Regions from separate parts of the Homo sapiens genome. Here region 1 is linked to region 2. A link means that fine-mapping ties the variant in region 2 to the expression of a gene that starts in the linked region. Tissue or cell type: skeletal muscle. Region 2 holds a variant in brackets; the other region holds the start of a gene. All regions are shown on one strand. Distances are from middle to middle.

Evidence for each region. PIP is the estimated chance that this variant, and not a neighbour inherited with it, causes the effect.
Region 1: it holds the start of ANKRD33B, and the variant in region 2 is fine-mapped to the expression of ANKRD33B in skeletal muscle (GTEx, PIP above 0.99).

The regions. Positions count from the first base shown.
Region 1 is chr5:10,559,719-10,569,754 of GRCh38, reverse strand. It overlaps ANKRD33B (ankyrin repeat domain 33B), which reads right to left and starts at 5,685. Exons shown (of 4, transcript NM_001164440.2): 1 at 4,922-5,685. The coding sequence starts at 5,287. RefSeq lists enhancers at 2,512-2,561, 2,642-2,701, 3,229-3,730, 4,022-4,111, 4,132-4,181 and 3 more and silencers at 3,832-3,881, 4,852-4,901, 5,242-6,101.
Region 2 is chr5:10,587,601-10,597,636 of GRCh38, reverse strand. All of the region lies in intron 1 of ANKRD33B (ankyrin repeat domain 33B), which reads right to left. Among named protein-coding and RNA genes, the nearest start is that of ANKRD33B, 29 kb to the right of the region's middle. RefSeq lists enhancers at 1,939-1,998, 1,226-2,425, 8,446-8,740 and a silencer at 8,446-8,740. The variant T/C (reference allele first, on the strand shown) is at 5,031.

The DNA.
Region 1 (10,036 bases), 28 kb after region 2:
GCTGAGACCTCCTCTGACTCCAGCCCCTCGGACTCCCGGTCTAGGATTCTGCTCAATTTGCCCTCCTCACCCGCTTTCTCACAGTTCAGAATTTGGAGATGCAACTAAAACACTAGCATACATGCCTCTATTTATTTATTTATTTATTTATTTATTTTCAAACACGGGTCTTGTTCTGTCGCCCAGCCTGGGGCGCAGTGGTGCAATCTCAACTCACTGCAACCTCCACCTCCTGGGCTCAAGCGAGTCTCCTGCCTCAGCCTCCCCAGTAGCTGGGACTACAGGCGTCCACCACCATGCCTGCCTAATTTTGGTATTTTTTTAGAGATGGGCTTTCACCATGTTGCCCAGGCTGTTCTCAAACTCCTAGGCTCAAGTGATCTGCCTGCCTCGGCCTCCCAAAGTGCTGGGATTACAGGAAGGAGCCACCACGCCCAGCCTAACATACATTCCTAAAAAGCAAAGCTTGTGCTTGCAGGCCCTCCGCAAGCATACAGAGGCCTGAGGCCAGAATTCACTTTCTATGGTAACTAACAAGAACCAGAGAAGTCACTTTCTATGCTAGTCAGCCCGTTGCTGTGCACACGCAGGCCATGAGCACCGAGGCCTGGTAAAGACGGAGGGCTGTTGCAATAACTGGATTCTCATTTTTGGGGAAAAGTGATTCTGGAGCTTATAAATCTTTCGGAAGTATTAAAAAAATAAATAAATAAAAACTTTCTCACATACATTTCAAGATAAAGCCCTGATCATCGCTATAAATCTATGAAAATTAAGTTTTAATTTTAAGCACCTCAAGAGTAAAGGGAAACACCCACACTGGGTGTGATGTGGGCTTTGCTGACCTAACAAAACAAACCAATGGAGGGGCCTTTGGAAAACGTAACCAAGAGACCCTGGAAATTTAAACACGCAGAAGCAGGGCAGGCGCGGTGCCTCACACCGGTAATCCCAGAACTTTCAGAGGCCAAGCAAGAGGATCACTTGAGGTCAGGAGTTCAACACCAGCCTGGCCATCATGATGAAACCCTGTCTCTACTAAAAATACAAAAATTAGCCGGGCGTGGTGGCGCACGCCTGTAATCCCAGGTATGTGGGAAGCTGAGGCAGGAGATTCACTTGAACCCCGGAGGCGGAGGTTGCAGTGAGCAGAGATTGCGCCACTGCACTCCAGCCTGAGTGACAGAGCAAGACTCAGTCTCAAAAACAAACACGAACACGCAGAAGCAGAATCCCATCAGGACAGGAGTGCAGTATTTTAAATTGAGCATGTATTTGGGCCTAATTAAGTCCAAGAGCTGTCTGACATTTAAACTGCCCTTCTGCAACAATTAAAACAACACACTTTGTGTGTTTTCACTGTCATCTCAAGAGCCGCCAAGGCCATAAAGGTGAACTTCAGGTGATAGTAAGTGGAAGAGAAGAATTAAGAAAAAGAATTATGGCAGCTTGCACTGCCTCAAGTCAGAAGGAACAAAACAACCATAAATCCAGAAGACATTGGAAGCAAGCTTTGAATGTTATTGGGCAATTATCTGACAAATATTTACATGTTGCATATTAAATCATGCAATGCTTTTAGAGCAATAAATATTTTAGAAGGAAAATGGTGTGCTGAGCCACATCCAACATTCTACCAATCTCAGGAGGCAGGAGAGAATGCATTTTCTTAAACAAAACACATCTGACCCTTAGTTACCCAGACCAAATGGAATGCCTGTCAGCTCAGGCAAAGCTCCCTTCTTAAATGCCCAGAGATGAAGAGCTCAACAAGCATGTCCCAGAAAAGTTTAGACGCCTTTAGAGATCATTTCCTCCTAGAAAGCCGGCTGTGGGCTGTATCTGTGAGCTGTCATTCTGTCATTAATGCAATTACCCCTCCACTGCACCAAAGCTGTCCGGGCCTTCTTTAAGGTTTTCACTGCCACTAATCATGATAAGCTTGGAGACCAGGCTCCAACGAGGTTCCCACCTCAGTCTTTGCACACACTGTTCCCTCCGTCTAACTCCTCTTTCCCCTAGATGCCGTCTCTGCTCAAACGTCACCTGCTCTCTAAATGACCATCCTATTTATAATTTCAGCCCTAAATGTGTGAATGCCTACATTACCCTTGCTCAGCTCCAGGTTCTGTAGGCTTGGACAAGAGGAGACAGAAAAGCCTCCCAGGGAAGGTGCCCTTAAACCAGGAGCCTGCAGACAGAGAGGGAGTGACCCACACTGCCGTCGGGGAGACCGGACACCGTCATGTGAAAAGCAGTCCGTCTCCCAGTTTCCTAGGTCTCAGCTAGCCGCTCTTCCTCTGCAAGTTCTTCTCCTCACTAAAAGGCTAGGACTCTTCAAAGGCAGGGACTGCCAGATTCAGTTTTGAGTCTGCTAAAGTACCTAGCGGGAGCACAGTAGGTCTGCGGTAAACACTTTGGCAATGACTCACTCCATTTACCACAGAGCAGGGCATCAGGGCTTTGCCACACTTGATTCTTTCAGCTGTTTTTCAGGAAGATAGAGGCTGTTTGATCAACAGCCTTGAGAAGCTAATGAAAAGAATGGAGGCTCCTGCCTCGCTCCCCCCACTGGCCTCACAAAGCACAGAACACAAGCCCTGCTCCGTCTGATCCAAAGATGAAAGAGTCCAAGGGTCTCTAAGTTAGCAGGCTATGTCCGGGCCTACATCATTATTTTACGTGACACAGAGAAACAAAGTCTTCACTTCTGCTGTAATCAAAGGGGAAGAAAAGCAGCGAGAGAAAAAGCCTTGCCTGGCAGAAGACAAAAAACAAAACAAAACAAAATAAAACTGGAAGGTGCTCTCTTCCAAGCCAAGAGAAGGCAGACGAATGAGAAACACGATGGTAAACACAAGCCTGGGGCCAGGCCTTCCCAGAGCCTTGTGGGCACTAAGCCATTTTATGCTCACATCCTAAGAGGAGAGGCTGCCCTTATCCCTATTTTACAGACGAGGAAACTGAGGCAGAGAGCTGCTGGGAGGCTGGAGCTAGCCTCCCATACCACGGCCCTCCCCTGCCTCTCTGCTGTGTGGCCTGGAGACTCAGTCTGTTAGGCTCGAGCCCCTGGGGATGGTTTACGTTGCTGTCAGTTTTCTTCAATGCAGCTGTTTTCAAACATTTATGTTTTGCCCCTAAAGGAAACATTATATAAAGCTGAGCCCAGTGGTGCCCTAGAGTGGGGACTGGGCGAGCCAGGCCCCTCCTGTGCCCATTCCAGCCCACTGGAGACCACCAGGCTGCCCAGGACAGGGGGAGAGGCCCACCCCACCTGTTCCTTTATGAGCTTGGTGAGGCTTCCTTTAAAGCGGGCCCCCATACTGGCTTCCAGAAAGCAAGGTTTCTGATTACACACATCTGGGCCTGAAAACTCAGTTAAACCAAATGTAGAACTTGAGAAACAGGCCCTAGGACTTCGGGTGGAGCTCCAAGCCCTAATCACATGCCAGCCAGGGCATCTGTCGCCAGGGCTGGGGGAGGAGGCATTGCAAGAGGAATGGCAGCAGGAACTACAGGGCTCCAGGTGATGCTACCTACGGGGACGCCACCTCAGGTCTCACTGCCTAACATATGACAAGCACAGACCCTTCCTCCAAGTTCAAATGTTGTGTGATATGGTTTGGCTGTGTCCCCACCCAAATCTCATCTTGAATTCCCACGTGTTGTGGGAGGGACACGGTGGGAGGTAATTGAATCACGGGGGCAATGTAGTACAAGGGGAGAGTGACATTGGAGGGCTTCCCATCCACCTAAGCCCAGCCCAAACCACAGTCAGGGCAAACCACTTGCCCCACCCACTGCAGGATAAACCAAAGGCACAAGGTCACCCGGGTCCCCAAGTCAAAGCACATGTTTTCTGTCAGCTGCAGGCTCCTGAGCAAAAAGCATGTGCATTTGTGCTAGGCTGCATCTGCAGATACCACGGTCCTTGGACAATACAAAAATCAGGTGAGAACGCTGCCATTTGCCCACTGAGCACAGACTACGGGGAACTTGGCCACCGTGGTCACTCTGCAGTTTTCCCTTGAAGTGCTTTGCTTGGTGGAAGGTGTTCCACCAGCCAGTCCTTCTCAGGTCTTCTTAAGCCAACTTTTTTTCTTTTCCTTTCTTTTCTTTTCTTTTCTAAACATCTCGTTTTCTCTGAATCTGGTCATAACGAAAGGATAGCCTGTGCCTGCCTCCACGCCTCCTGCCCTACCCGGGTGGATGCCCGCGGCTCTGGGGCTCTCCCTATGCCCTGACTCTGGGGAGCCCCGGCTGGCATTGGCTCGCGAAGGTGACCTGCGGACAGACCAGTCAGAGATCACGTTGGCTGGTCGCGGCGCGGGCCACAAAGCTCAGCGGAGGTGGGGTAGGGGACCAAGCTGTCCCGGCGAGGGAAGAAACTGTTGCTTCCAAATCATTGCGGCTGGAGGAGCCGATCTGCGCCCCAGCGTGTTAGGACAAGGGCGGCGCGAGGGGCCCAGGGGCCAAATGGGGCGCTGGGCAGGAGGGGCTGTCTCCTGCAGGGGAGGAGGAATGGTCCCCTGCCAGGGACCTGGGGAAAGGTAATAGTCAGGAGGGGACCGGGCCGCAAGAAGCCCATCCTGGATTGCAGCACGGGCAGCCAGCGCGAATTCAGTCAGGAGGTCCACGGGGACCGGTAAACGAGAAGGGGATGCGGTGAGGACGCCGGACTGGCGTTTCTGCCGCGCTGACACCTCGACTGCTCCCTCCCCGCACCGCGTCCCCCAGCCTGAGACGGGGAAGCCACCCAGGGCACCGCGCTCCCAAACAGCGGGGAAAAGGCGCTCTGGGCGGCGGCTGAGTGACCGAGGGACCGGTCCGGAGCCAGGAGCTGGGAGGCGCGGGGATGTGGTGGGGAGGAGGGGAGTGGGGGCAGTGAGGGGGCTCAAATCCTGCGGGGACGCCCGCTTACCCTGCCGTTGCGGTCAGTCTCCTGCGCCTCCTCGACGCTCACCCCGCGCCGCACCAGCGTCCGCAGCAGCCCCACGTTGTTGGCGCAGGCGGCGCGCAGGAGGGTCGCCGTCTCCGGGACGCTTTCCGGGACGCCCTCCGGGACGCTCTCCGCGCTCTCGACGCCGTGCTCCTCCTCGTCCTCGAAAGGGTAGAAAGAGTCGTCCGAGGCGATGCTGCGGGTGTCTGGCAGACTCGAGAAGTCCTCAAACTCTTCGTAGTCAGCGGGGTCCTCCTCGACCTGCGCGCCCCGGGGTGGGGACGGCGGTGGTGGGGTCATGCAGCGCGCCCCGCCGCCCTCCGGCCCGGTCCCGGCCAGCAGCACCATGCCGGCGGCCGGGGCGCGGGCCGGGGGCCGGGGCGCGGGCAGGAAGAGCGGGACGCGGGGCGCGCGCCGAGGTCCCCGCTTCTCGCTTCTGCGTCCCCAGAGAAGCCGTGGCCCGCGCGCTCCAGCTCGGCGGAAACCGGCACCAGGCGGCTGCGCTCAAAGAAAAAAGTCTCCGGAGGCTGAGCGAGCCCCTGGGGTGGGCGGGACCGCGGGGGCTTTCCGAGGCGGGGCGGGGCGGGGCGCGGGGACACGCCTTCCCCCGGGGCCTTCCCCTCGCGCCCCTTCCTGGCCAGAGTTCAGAGCCAGGCAGGCGCTCTCTCGAGCGCGGGGACTGGGCACCTGGCAGCGTTGCCCCAGAGCTGGGGACAGCTGGCGCGGGAGAAGCAGAAGCAATCACTAAAGAAGCCGAACCCGAGTCGCGGGCGGCAAGCGGCCCCGCCCCTCCCTCCGCCGGCCCGCGGGATGGGGGCGGAGGTGGCGGCGGGGGGACGCCGGGGCGGAGCCGGCCTCCAGCTTCGGGAACCTCGGACCCCTGGAGCCGGCCTCCGCCGAGGGCGTCGGGCCCCCGGACCTGGGTGGGGCCGGTTTCTCCCGCCGCTTCAGAGGAGCAGAGCGGGTTTTCTCCCTTCGGGGGATCCCGGGCTTCGGGGCTGACTCCACCCGGCCGCGGCCGCTTGGAGGCCGGGGAATCCCCGGGGCGCTTGGCGGGCAGAGGAGCCGGGCGCGGGAGCGGAGCCGTCCACCTGGGACCTGTGCCCGGGGAGCGCTGCGGGCCGGGCCACTCTGAACTGGGGGCGGTCGGCTGCTGTGGGGGAGTCCCAGCCCGGAAGGGAGGACAATCCTCAGAGTCCCCCGTCTCGCGGAACCGGGGCCGGCCGTGGCTTGAGGGTTGGTCAGATCCTGGGATGGGGGGCGGGGTGTTCCGGAACCTCAGGGAGCATCTGAGTGGGAACGGACGACGAGGAACTCCCCGTCCCCATGCCTGGCCTGTGTCACGTGCGGGGATCTGCGGACTCACCCCCGGAGGCTGCGACTGGGCGCTGACCCCACGTCTGGCTGCCCAAAAGAGCAGGGCCGCGGGCGACAGCCGCAGTCCAGGCCCACAGCCCCTCTGGCCCGGCCTTGCCCTCTCCCCGTCAGTCCTGGCGCCGGGGATGGGCGGGGAGGAGGAGGGCGTGTGAGGATTTGCCACAGGGAGCCCTTGACTTCGGGGTAGGAGGCGTCGTGAGCCAATCTTGGGGGAAGGTCTCTGCGCAAAGGCGCGGAGGTGCGCTCGCGCCCGTCGCAGGTCAAAGACTGCGGAGGCCACCAGCCCTGTGTCCCCCTAGCCTCCTTCCTTCCTTTTTTTCCCCCGATCTTGACAGCGTGTCCACCAGCTGCCAGCCGGTGGGAGGCCCTCGCGGCCCCAAGGTGAACACAGCTAGGCTGGCGCAGCCGCTGGGGACCAGGCTTGAGGCCCACGTGCCGCTGGGCAAGCTGAGGGGCACGAGGGCACCGAATCCGAAACAGCCGTGGGAGGTGTAGGATGAGGACACGTTTAAACTGCGAAGCCGCTCGAGCCCTCGTGTCACACCGCACTGGCCCGACCCGCTGTCCTGGTCGCCTGGTCTTCCAGTGTCTCCAGCAGGAGCCAAAGGGCCTGCTGGCGGCCCCCGACCCGGCATCTGCAGGGCCCCGGAGGGTGGGGCGCGCGGGAGCACCGATTTCTGGTGAAGACGCCCTCGCACCTGGGCGGCTCTGAGCGAGCAGCGAACTGAGACTCGCTGGCCTCCTTCTCTACTCCGGGGATTCTTTCTGCAACCAAAAATAGCCCCCAGATTACAGTAAACTCTACCTTTTTGTGTAACTGACCACAGTTTGCATCAATTCCCACTGGGAATTTCCCCTTTCAAGGTTGAGGGTTGTTTCCAAAGGCCTGGGGTAGTTACAATTTCAAGTGCCCCCTGAGGGCTGAGTTGGGTTTGCTGGACCCACTGTCCTCCCAGGGAGAGCACTGCGTCACTTTACAGCAAGAGTCCCGGCTGCGGGTCACCAAGGCCCAGGTGGACAGGGCCAGGCCCTGAGAGGGGAGCACCACGCAGCCTTTTCTGGCCTCCCGTAGGCGATTGGTGCTCATTGACCGCGTCACTCAGCAAGGGAATTGAGGTTCTATCTTCAGAGTTTACCACTTCCTTTTCTTCCTTAGAAATTTGAGTCCAAATAGCATTTGAATGTGTTTCCCCTTAAATATAAACTAAAATGTCATCGTCTGCTTCAAAGAAGAACTATCGTTTATAAGTAAGTGGTCCGATTCAGGATGCAAGCTGATCATTTTCCTGTCTTTTAAAAATAAACCGCTAAGAAGAAACAATAAATAAAAAATAAAATATGCTTCTTTTACAACAAAGACAGTAGAGTCTGGACATTTCTGGAAGATGGGCTAAAAGAAACACAAAATCGACCGGGCGCGGTGGCTCACGCCTGTAATCCCAGCATTTTGGGAGTCCGAGGCGGGCGGATCACGAGGTCAGGAGATCGAGACCATCCTGGCTAACATGGTGAAACCCTGTCTCTACCAAAAATACAAAAACAAAATTAGCTGGGCGCAGTGGCGGGCGCCTGTAGCCCCAGCTACTGGGGAGGCTGAGGCTGGAGAATGGCGTGAACCCGGGAGGCGGAGCTTGCAGTGAGCAGAGATTGTGCCACTGCACTCCAGCCTGGGCGACAGAGCGAGACCCCGTCTCAAAAACAAAACAAAACAAAACACCAAAAAAAAAAAAAAAGACACAAAATCAGGCATAGGCATTTTTAGTAAAGCCAACATTTATTATATGTACAAAATCTGCATAGGTAGGAGAAAGTAGCTTATCAAAACTGCCGACTCAGGATAACTTAAATTAATATTCTGAGGCCAGGTGTGGTGGCTCACACCTGTAATTTCAAAACTTTGGGAGGTTGAGTCTAGCGGATCCCTTGAGCCCCAGGAGTTCAAGCCCAACCTGGGCAACGTGGTGAAACCCCATCTCTGCAAAACATACAAAATATAGCCTAGTGTGGTGGCGTGTGCCTGCAGTCCCAGCTACTTGAGGGGGAAGTCGAGGCTGCAGTGAGCCCTGATGGTGCCACTGCATTCCAGCCTGGGCAACAGAGTGAGACCCTGTCTCAAAACAAAAAGAGAAGTACTGAGAAATTATATTTTATCCGACTGTCAAGTTTCAATGAATTATTTTGTTATGATTTTGAAAGATATACATAGCAATTACACAATTTGTTCATTTAGTTGAATAATTTGTCTTTGGACCATTTTTTAAAAATTCAGCACTAGCTCAGTTATATGTCTGTAACATGCCTTTCAAAATTACAAGCAGTATGTTTATCTTGAAGAGAGAGAAAACTGCATGCACCTATAGGGCCTGCCCCACCTTGGTTTGGAAGGAGGGAGGCAGGGGGAACCTAGTGGTGGAGGAGCACACAAGTGCACCACAGTGTTCATAAAATAACTAGCTCCAGCACTTTGGGAGGCCAAGGTGGGCAGATCACTTGAGGTCAGGAGTTCGAGACCAATCTGGCCAACATGGTGAAACCCCATCTCTACTAAAAATACAAAAATTAGCCAGATATGGTGCTGCATGCCTATATTCCCCACTGCTCGGGAGGCTAAGGCAGGAGAATTGCTTGAACCTGGGAGGCGGAGGTTGCAGTGAGCTGAGATTGTGCCACTGTACTCCAGCCTGGATGACAGAGTGAGACGCCATCCCTCACCAAAGAAGAAAATAAAATAACCAGTTCCCATCTCCCAAGGCTAAATGAAGAACTGAAGGAGAGAGTGATTTAAAACCTTCTCACATTGTCTGGAATTTAGCAACAGTGTTAACTTTCATTAGTATGAAAATTAAAGTATCCATTCGCCTTGATATAAATTGTTCTGTAGGACCTGCTTCTCCAGATTCATTGCCTTATTTGCCGAGAGAGCTAGCCCAGGTGAAGTGAATGAGAAATGTGTATAGAAGGCAGTGCAGCTTGGGGTGAAGACCAGATAGTGATATCAGACAGGCTGGCTTCCAATTATGGCTTTACCACTGCTAAGTTACAATGATAATAGTTCTAGATTTTGAATGTCTGTTACTGTGGGGGTACCAATCTCCTATTCTTGATGTTTAGGGTATTTCCAACATTTTCCTTAGTGGACACAAATGCACCCTTGTCCAGGTATTTCCTCAGAAAAACATCCCACCTCAAGTGGCTTGAGCTTTTTAAACCCCAGTATTATGTGTAAAAATTGTTCTCAGTGAGAGAGACTGGGAGAGCCAGACCTCAAGCTCAGATGGGAAGACTCAGGGCTGTAAAGATCCTACTTGTCTTCATACTGTTCTAGAAATGACATGACCACATTCCTGTGTGAATGCTTGGAGGGGAACATGACAGCACTAATCCAAAGTAGATCTCATGAGATAACAACCGTCTGATAATTTCTTTTGCTGCTGTTGTTTTCATTGTCGTTGACGAAAGCTTTCCAGAGTTAGTCTCTGTTACTAGGAACTAAAACTCAGTTCAGCAAAACAGCATATTAAGAAAAAAACTCGACCGGGCGCGGTGGTTCATGCCTGTAATCCCAGCACAGAAAGAGAGAGAGAGAGAGAGAAAAGAAAGAAAAGAAAGAAAGAGCAAGCTAAATGGGGAAAAAACATTAATTGCAGAAAAAACATTAATTGTGCTGCTTGTGGCAAGTGGTTAGGATGATAGCCAAAACGTAGAGAGAATTCACAAACC
Region 2 (10,036 bases):
CTGTCTTGATGATCTAATATTGTCAGTGGGGTGTTAAAGTCTCCCATTATTATTGTGTGGGAGTCTAAGTCTCTTTGTAGGTCTCTACAAATTTGCCTCATGAATCTGGGTGCCCCTGTATTGGGTGCATATATATTTAGGATAGTTAGCTCTTCTTGTTGAATCGACTCCTTTACCATTATGTAATGCCCTTCTTTGTCTTTTTTTATCTTTGTTGGTTTAAAGCCTGTTTTGTCAGAAACTAGAATTGCACTCCCTGCTTTTTCCTGTTTTCCCCTTGCTTGGTAAATTTTCCTCCATCCCTTCATTTTCAGCCTACATGTGTCTTTGCATGTGAGATGAGTCTCTTGAAGAAAGCACACTGATGGGTCTTAACTCTTTACCCAGCTTGCTATTCTGTGTCTTTTAATTGGGACATTCAGCCAATTTACATTTAAGGATAATATTGCTATGTGTGAGTCTGATCCTGTCATCACGATGCTAGCTGGTTATTTGCAGAGTTGTTTATGTTGTTGCCTCATAGTGTCACTTGTCTGTGTACTTCAGTGTGTTGTGGCTGGGAGTGTTTTTTTCCTTTCCATATTTAGTGCTACCTTCAGGAGCTCTTGCAAGCCAGGCCTGATGGTGACAAATTCCCTCAGCATTTGCTTTTCTGAAAAGGATCTTATTTCTCCTTCACTTATGAATACTTAGATTGGCTGGATATGAAACTGAGTTGGAATTTTTTTTTCTTTAAGAATGTTGAATATTGTCCCCCAATCTCTTCTGGCTTGTGGGGTTTCTGCTGAGAGGTCCACTGTTAGTCTGACGGGATTCTCTTTGTGGGTAACCTGGCCTTTCTCTCTGGCTGCCCTTAACATTTTTTCTTTCATTTCAACCTTGGAGAATCTGATGATGATGTGTCTTGGGGTTGATGGTCTCATGGAGCATCTTACTGGGTTTCTCTGCATTTCCTGAATTTAAATGTTGGCCTGTCTTACTAGGTTGGGGAAGTTCTCACAAATGATATCCTGAATTATGTTTTCCAAATTGGTTCCATTCTCCCCATGTCTTTCAGGTACGCCAATCAGTTGTAGGTTCGATCTCTTTACATAATCTTATATACCATGGAATACTATGCAGCCATAAAAAGGAACAAGACCATGTCCTTTGCAGGAACATGGATGGTGCTGGAAGGCATTATCCTTGGCAAACTAATGCAGAAACAGAAAAACAAACACTGCATGTTCTCACTTATAAGTGGGAGCTGAACGATGAGAACACATGGACACACAGTTGGGGATCAATGCACACAGGGGCTTATCAGGGGGTGTGAGGCAGGAGAGCATCAGGAAGAATAGCTAAAGAATTCTGCACTTAATACCTAGCTGATGGGTTGATCTGTGCAGCAAACCACAATGGGCATGGCACACTGCCTGTGTAACAAACCTGCACATCCTGCACATGTGCCTCAGAACTTAAACTAAAAGTTGAGGGGGACAAAAAGAAAGCAAGCATAATTAATTTTAAAGGGTGCTGGTACATAATTAAGTCATTCTGTTGTTTTGGTTTGGCTTAGTTTTTTTCTGGCCTGGAACAATCTGTTCGGCTTATGCCAAAAACAAAGATCCCCCAGGCATAGGCGAAACATGATATTTTCAAACTTTCCTATGAGTCAGCGAAGGCAGTTTCACTTTTGTCCTGGGACACGTAATTCCAGGAAGCGCTTCCCCTGCCCTGGTACACTCAGCCTTCTCCCTCTCTGTTTTCAGGCCATCACACCTGCTCGTTCACAGAGGAGGCAAAAAAATGGATGATGGACAGAGATTTCCAGAGTCGTAATCATCCAGATGGTGGCCACTAGAAAAGACCAGAGAAAATGTCCAGGGTTGGAGTGCAGGGATGAGCCCAGAAGATGACATTGCAAGCAATGGCTGAACCTCTGAAGATTCATTTCGTCTCTTAAGGGTGTCCAAGTCTCTCCTCTGCCCATCAGGCCCCACTGGAGGATTCTGAACCCCTCTCCTTCAGTTACTCCTTCAGGTAACTGCCTGTAGTAGGTTGAAATGTATCGCCCAGAAAAGACATGTCCACATCCTAACCCCGGTCGCTGTGAATGAGACTCTGTTGGGAAATAGCATCTTTATAGATCATAATTAAGGATCCTAAGATGAGATCATCCTGGAGATTTGAGACACAGATGTGCAGAGGACAGATGAGGACAGAGAGAGATTGGAGCGATGCTGTCACAGACCGCAGAATTCCCAGCTCTGCCAGAGGGAGCGTGGCCCTGCTGTCACCTGGACTTCAGACATCTGCCCCCCAGAATTGTGAGAGAATCAATTTCTGATGTTTAAGCCACCTACTTTGTGGTCATTTGTTACGGCAGCCTTCAGAAAAAAATCCACTGCCAATCTAGCACCACAACCACCTATGTCCCCCAGGCCGCTCCTCCACCTGGCCTCCTCCCTCCTCTCCTGCTCAGGATGTAACCCTCCGGTCTGGCCCCAACACAGCACCTCCCTCTGGCGTGACTCCCCTCCACCCTCCACAGTCACAGGGCACACTCGCTAGAGATAGGGATCCATGTTTGGTGTTTCCTCTCTGCTTAACAACATCTGCTCCTGCAGCTCTTGAGTTACTTGCCATAGGAAAAGCCCAGGACTGGCCCTGCTGGGTCCCACCAATCACCCGGGGAGTGAAATCCCAACTACTCAGCCCAGCTCCTTCAACTCTATTTGCAGTTCACCCATCCTCTACCAAGACAATCACCACTCCTGCTGCCTGTACCTGGAAGGCACTTTCCTACCCGCTCAACGGCAGTCAACTCCCACTTTCCCCGAAGGACCCACACACAAGGTTTCCCAGTGCCGAATCCCACCCACATCGCAGGCAGCTCTGGGTTCCTGACATGTATCAGTGAATTCCTTTCCTGTTACCTCATTTTCTTTCAAGGAGTCGTTCTTCTTAGGTTCATGTCTTACCCCACCTAATGAATCAAATACCCTCTGAGGGCTTCAGTTTTGAGGTCGTGAACCCCATGTGGCTCCCAGGGGCCTTCCAGAACATGTGCCCTCGGCATGCATGGGGATGAGTGCATGCACGAAGGGAATAACAAGTAGAAAGAAGAATGTGTTTTTGGCTGGGCGTGGTGGTTCACACCTGTAATCCCAGCACTTTGGGAGGCCGAGGAGGGCAGATCAGCTGAGGTTGGGAGTTCAAAACCAGTCTCACCAACATGGAGAAACCCTGTCTCTACTAAAAATACAAAAATTAGCCGGGCGTGGTGGCGCATGCCTGTAATCCCAGCTCCTCAGGAGCCTGAGGCAGGAGAATCGCTTGAACCCGGCAAGCGGAGGTTGTGGTGGGCATTGCACTCCAGCCTGGGCAACAAGAGCAAGAAACCCTGTCTCAAAAAAAAAAAAAAAAAAAAAAAGAAGGATGTGTGTTTTTAAAATGCATATTTTCTGCAGTATTGGAGATCAATCAATCAATAAATACATGATCTCTTTAAACATCCCTCCCTGAATAAGAGTGAAAAAAAGCTTTAAATAAGGAATAGGTCTGTGACAATGAAGAGAATTCCTGCCCTTGGAGAGGAGAGAAAATCCCCGTGAGCTGACAGCTCCCACATGTGGTTACTCCTCGCTGTTGAGTCTCTAGGCTTTGCTCACTGCAGAGACTCTGGGACAGGTTCTGCCTTGCCACGGGACCAGAATTCGGCTCAGAGACAGCACAGGCCTTGGGTCTGAAAAAACTGTAGCTCAACAGCCAAGAGTAGTCTTGCAGCAGAAAAGGAGATGAACTATCCTTAAATGGCAGAGGGTTCATGAGGGGGTGAGGGTAAGTGAGTTGAGAGGGGTGGGGGTTGTGCTGGAATGGGGATCCAGGTGAGCCAGGGTCAGGGAAGTTGAGCCAGGGTGAGGGGTTGGGGAGTGAGTGGGTCATTGAGTCGGGGTCTGATGTTAGCCCCCCTGCCCGGGAGGAGAAGAGGTTGGAGAGAGGCTGGAGAGGTGAAGACTCAGAGCTCTGGAGGTGAGCTAGGGTTGGAGGAGTTGGGCTGGAGTCATGGTGAACAGGAGGTTGACCCAGGGTGGGGTTGGGATGAGCAGGGTAGGGTGTCGACTGAGACAGAGGTGAGGTACAGTACAAGGCAAGTTAAGGCACTAAAAAGTAAATGTCATACAACAAATGTGTAGATGACCCCTTTGAGAAGCTCCCCACTCAAATATCCAGTGTCTAAAGGGGAGGAAAGTATTCTGTCATTGCAGATGGGGTCGTACATTCATTGATGGTACAGGTTTTTGCTTTATTTTGTTTTTTCTTAAAAGAGTTAATAGCTAATGCTTTAAAAAAAAGTAAACAGAGCAAAATATATTATCTGCGATAATAATTTAAAATATGTTACTGCACAGAAAAAAAGAGAGTCCTATTATGCCAGTTGACTCAACTAATAATAGCTGTAGTGTTATAATATAAGGGTTAGTTGTTTTCTACTTTTAGAATCAAACTATAGATAAAGTTGAAATAATAAGCATAATTAAGATCCAAGAAAATGTTACTAGTCTCGTAAGTGGAAAGCTAGCGAAGACAATATGAGGGGTGGATACGGGGTGGTGGGAAAAGGTTAGGAAGGTCCTTACCTAACAGAGGAGAAGTCAGGAAATACCAGCTAGAATTGATGGAGAAGGAACTGGGGTTGAAATAACATATATAAGAAACTAAAAGAATACATATGAAAAAGGATGGGTGGATGGGTCTGATCAGAGGGGTGAAAAGGGCAAGTCAGCAAAAAACTCCACTACCATTGCACACAATCATCTCCACTGCCTCAAATGGACAAACCAAGAGTAGCTATGATGAGCAGGTTGCAACTGGCAGGGAGGGGACTGCCAGATGAAATGAAAGTGGGAACAGTGGCAAGAGACAGCTCTGAGGAGCAGACAGGTGGCCAAGAAGCCTGGGGTCTCTCACTGCAAGCTCATCTGCAGGATTCTATTTTCTTTTCTTTTTCTTCTTCTTTTTTTTTTTTTGACAGAGTCTCACTCTGT[T/C]GCCCAGGCTGGAGTGCAGTGGTGCAATCTCAGCTCAGCTCATTGCAACCTCCACCTCCCGGGTTCAAGCGATTCTCATGCTCAGCCTTCCAAGTAGCTGGGATTACAGCCGCCACCACGTCCACCTAATTTTTTTTTTTTTTTTTTTTTTTTTTTAGTAGAGATGGGGTTTCACCATGTTGGCCAGGCTAGTCTTAAACTCCTGACCTCAGGTGATCCGCCCGCCCTGGCCTCCCAAAGTGCTGGGATTACAGGCATGGGCGCCACCGCGCCCAGCCAGGATTCTATTTTCTATCACATATATGCTCTGTTTAACAAAAATAAGAGACAAGGAAAGTAGAATACTAACAAGAATAAAGTTTTCCCACAAATTGGTGAGAAGAAAATAAAGCAGATGGCCCAAAATAAGACCCTGTCTTTAAAGGGGAACATGTGTTAAAGGAGCAATCTGGGCAGTGATGGATGACTCAACCAACATTGCTGGAAAAGTTGATTACTGAGCAGTAAACACACACACACACACACACACACACCATAAAATCAAAAGATAATACAAAAGGACTAAAAAGTCAAGGGTATAATATATATACATACATACATACATACTTATATCCTAAAATAGTTTACTGATGGAGAAAAGAGATTCAAAAGCTAAAAATAATAAGATAACAATAAATATACAATGTAAGTTACTATATAAATACAATATTCCCTTATATCAAAATTATAAGTAAAATTGAAAGAAAAATGAAAAAGCAATCAAGATTAGTGACATTCACAGAATGATTTAAACAGAAATATTATATTGAATATCAGCATAAATACACCAAGAGTACAATTTTTCAAGGGTAAAGGAATGAGTAGAAAAACCAAAAAATAGCAAAAAGCCAGTAAATACATGTAAAATATACATAATCTTACTAGTAAGCAAAATAATGTAAATTAAAATATTAATGAGACACCATATGCTTAACAATAAATATTACATTTCAGATCTTCACAAAAGATGAATTCATTAATAGTTCTGGACAAAAGTCCCAGTCATACGGAAAAAAAATAAGGTTGGATCTTTATCTCACATCTCAGGCTGAAATGAATCATTAAATATTCAATCATAAAAACACTAAAAAGGCTCGGTGCGGGACAGCACTCTGGGAGGCCAAGGGTGGCAGATCAAGAGGTCAGGCGTTCGAGACTAGCCTGGCCAATATGGTGAAATCCTGTCTCTACCAAAAGTACAAAAAAAATTAGCCAGGCATGGTGGCACGCACCTGTTGTCCCAGCTACTCAGGAGGCTGAGGCAGGAGAATTGCTTGAAACTGGGAGGGGGAGGTTGCAGGGAGCCCACATGGTGCCACTGCACTCCAGCCTGGGCAACCGAATGAGACTCCATCTCAAAAAAAAAAAAAAACCACTAAAAAAAATGTAGATGACTATTTCTATAAACCTGGCTTAGAAACAGCATTTTGAAGCAATAGAGCAAGGCCGGAAACCATAAAGAAATAGATACATCTGACTGTATAAAAATTTAAACCTTCTCAGCAAAACAGTGTAAAGAAAGTAAAAAGGCAAATGACAGGGACTCTCACTTTCAGCTCTGAGAAACTGGCTTCAATCAGAGGCACTTTTCCCCTGAGAACAACTGAATACTTTTTTTCCCTAAATATCCATTTGGAGGCATCCAGTTTCCAAGACGACCAGGACTTGCAGGCCTGATTGTATTCCAGAAAGAAGGCGGAAATCCTGAGATAAGCTTCCATTCTCATGGCTTTCCCTAAGGGCATTTGCTGAGTAAGGCTGGGTGCTGAGAAACCAAGCAGAGAGCAGTAGTGAAGGGTAGGAGGAGCTAAGCAGAGTTGGTCATACTCTCGAGGGTTTGCAGGGAGGGGTATCCAATCTTTTGGCTTCCCTGGACCTCAATGGAAGAAGAATTGTCTTGGGCCACACATAAAATATACTAACACTAACACTGGCTGAAAACACACACACACACACACACGCGCGCGCGCGCGCGCGCATCTCAAAATATTTTAAGAAAGTCTACAAATTTGTGTTGGGCTGCATTCAAAGTCATCCTGGGCCTCATGTGGCCCGCAGGCCAGGGGTTGGATAAGCTTGGGTTAAGGAGACAAAAGTGGTATTCATGATCTGCCCAGGCCATATTTCTATAGGAAGCCAAAAGGGCTATATCCTACAAGACAGGCCAGAAAGAGGCCAGATCTTATAAAAACTACAACCTAGACTGCAATCTTCTGTCCCACTCTGTCTGCCAGAAGCAAACTAAATCCTCCCTGGACAAGATAACACAATCTAGTGCTACTTCAATTTTCATACACAATGTCTAGCATTCCAAAAATTACCAGATGTATCAGGAGACAGGGCCAAGAGAAAAACAGAAAATAGAAAACATCCCCAGAAGATCCAGAAATTAGAACGATCAAGCTTTAAAATAACTAATATGTAAAAGCAAATAATGACAAATGAGGAACTTTATTACAGAACTAGAATCAATAAAGAATCAAAAATTTTAGAAATACAGCATAATTGAAATTAAGAATGTAAAAAGCAATTAAATAGTAGATTAGGGTAAAGATATGATTAGTGAATCAAAAGATAAGTTTAATCAAAAATGCCCAGAAAATTAAAAAAAAAAAAGATTTAAAAGATAGGAAGAAAAGCATAACATACACAGGCAGCATGGTATAAAAGGTCTAATGTGTGTGAATTTGGTGTCACAGGATAGGAAGAAAAAGGGATTGGAACAAAAACAATATTTGACAAGATAATGGCAGAGAATTTTCCAAAACTGACAAGAGATATCAAGCCGCATATTCAGGAAACTCTATAAACCCCAAACAAGATTTTTTAAATGACAAATTAGAAAAAGAAGGCAGAATATAATAACTTTAGCATATGTAAAAAAATCCTTAGACCTCAAGAAGATAAGACAGACTAATCAAAAAATTGACAAAGGAATTGGTAAATTAGTTCAAAGAAAGAAATACAAAGGGCTAGTAAACATGTGATATGAAATATGTCTCAGCCTCACTAATCAACAAAAATGCACAAATAAAAGTGAGGTGTCATTTTTTGACAAGTTGGAAAAGAGTAAACAGAGTCAAATTAATTGGTGTTGGCAAAGTGTAGAAGGAAATGTACTCCCTTACCTTGCTAGAAAGCTTCAGTGTTGTAATGTTAAGTGAGATGGTGAGGCTTGGTGTAGTCAGGTGCAGCACAGTGAGGGACACTCAGACTGCAAAATGAATCAAGTTTACTACTCACAGGTCTGGAAGGAAGAGGACAGCACCCCTGGCAAGACCAAAGAGAAGAGGGGAGGAGCCATCCAGGACCTGCTCCTTCGACCAGCAGGTGGGGAACGAGAAACGGAGGGGCCTGTGGGTTGGATCCTTTATGGGGTTACCTAGGTGGGTTTCCCACAGCACGGTTGGATTAGTTCATTTGAAGGAAGCACGAGACTCAGCACAGGAACTCGGGGGTTACCTTATCAGGTTCCCGAGGCTTAAAGCAGAAGTAATGTGGTCAAGCAGCTCAGGGTATGGGGTCTTATCTACCCAGAACATGAAAACAGGAGCTGCGTGAAGACTGCCTCAAAATATGTTAGTCAAGCATGACAAGCTGGGAACAGGACAAGCAGATGGACGCTGAGGCAGTATTCATATGCATAAGTGATGACAATAAGCAAGTTCACTCTCTCTAGGGAGCCACTAGCTAATATGCACTCAGGCTGAGTTAGACTGTGCAGCAGAACAAGCAATCTCCACATCCCAATGGCATACGACAAACGTCTGCTTCCTGCTCATGCCACATGGTTGGCATGCAGCTTTTTTCCACATTGTTTTCCCTTGCAAGACTCAGGCTGATGGAGAAAACTCTACCTGGAAAATTGTGGGTTGCCCGGAAGAGGGGAAAAAGGATATGGCAAATCATACGCTGGATTTTAAAACTTCTGGCCAAAAGTTACACAAGTCACTTCTCACTGAATTGGCCAGAGCAAGTGACATGGCCAAGTGTGATGTTATGGGGAGGAAAGTCTAATCCTACCTTAGGGAAAGGCACATTTACTTTCAAAAATAAGAGAACTTACTCCACAGATCGAAACAAAATCTAACAATTTCCTAAGAGAGTCAGTAGGTTTCTGTACAAAGATGTGCAAATCTCTGTGTTGTTACTAATCTGCAAACCAGAAATAACCTCAATGTCCACTAGGAAGCCACAGGTTAAAGAAACGAACATATCCAGAAAGAGTACATTGTGGTCATTAAAAACGACATGTATTTGCTGGCAAAGAAAGGTGCCCTCATGAAGGTGCTAAGGAAAAAAGATTATAAGTACCGTATTATATTAAATGTCGCTAAAGTTATACCTCAAATACATAAGTATGCCTAGATCATGAATTCGCAGTCACTTTTTTATCATCTTTGGCATTTTACCTTTTTATGTTATCTGAATATTTTACAATAAGTATGCATGACTTAATATTTTGAAGATCAGCAAAGCCGTTTCAACATTTTTGATAATTAACATTCAGTGTCATGAGGATATAGTGAAACAGGCAATTTCATACCCTGTTGGTGGAAGGAAAACTGGGTACAATAATAACATACCAATAATATACCTTCTTGGAATTGATCTAAACAGAACTGCCCAGAGAGCCAATAAGAGACGTATTTAGACATTCATACATCAGAGCATTATTTATATCACAAAAAATTTCAGAAACAAAAAAGACCCAAAATTACTGAATAAACTATGATATATGCAGAAGTTGGATTTTTAAAATCAAGATTCTGAAGTATTTCTAATATAGAAATACCCCTACAAGTGAATAAACCAGGACTCAAAACTTTATTTATAGATAGATAACTTTACAGATAGCTAATCTGGCAGAGCATATATATTTCACAGCACAAGTCAGAAAAGAACACCGAAAAATTCACTATCATTAGCTCCAGGTACTGGGAATACAGGTGACTGGTTTTTGTTTT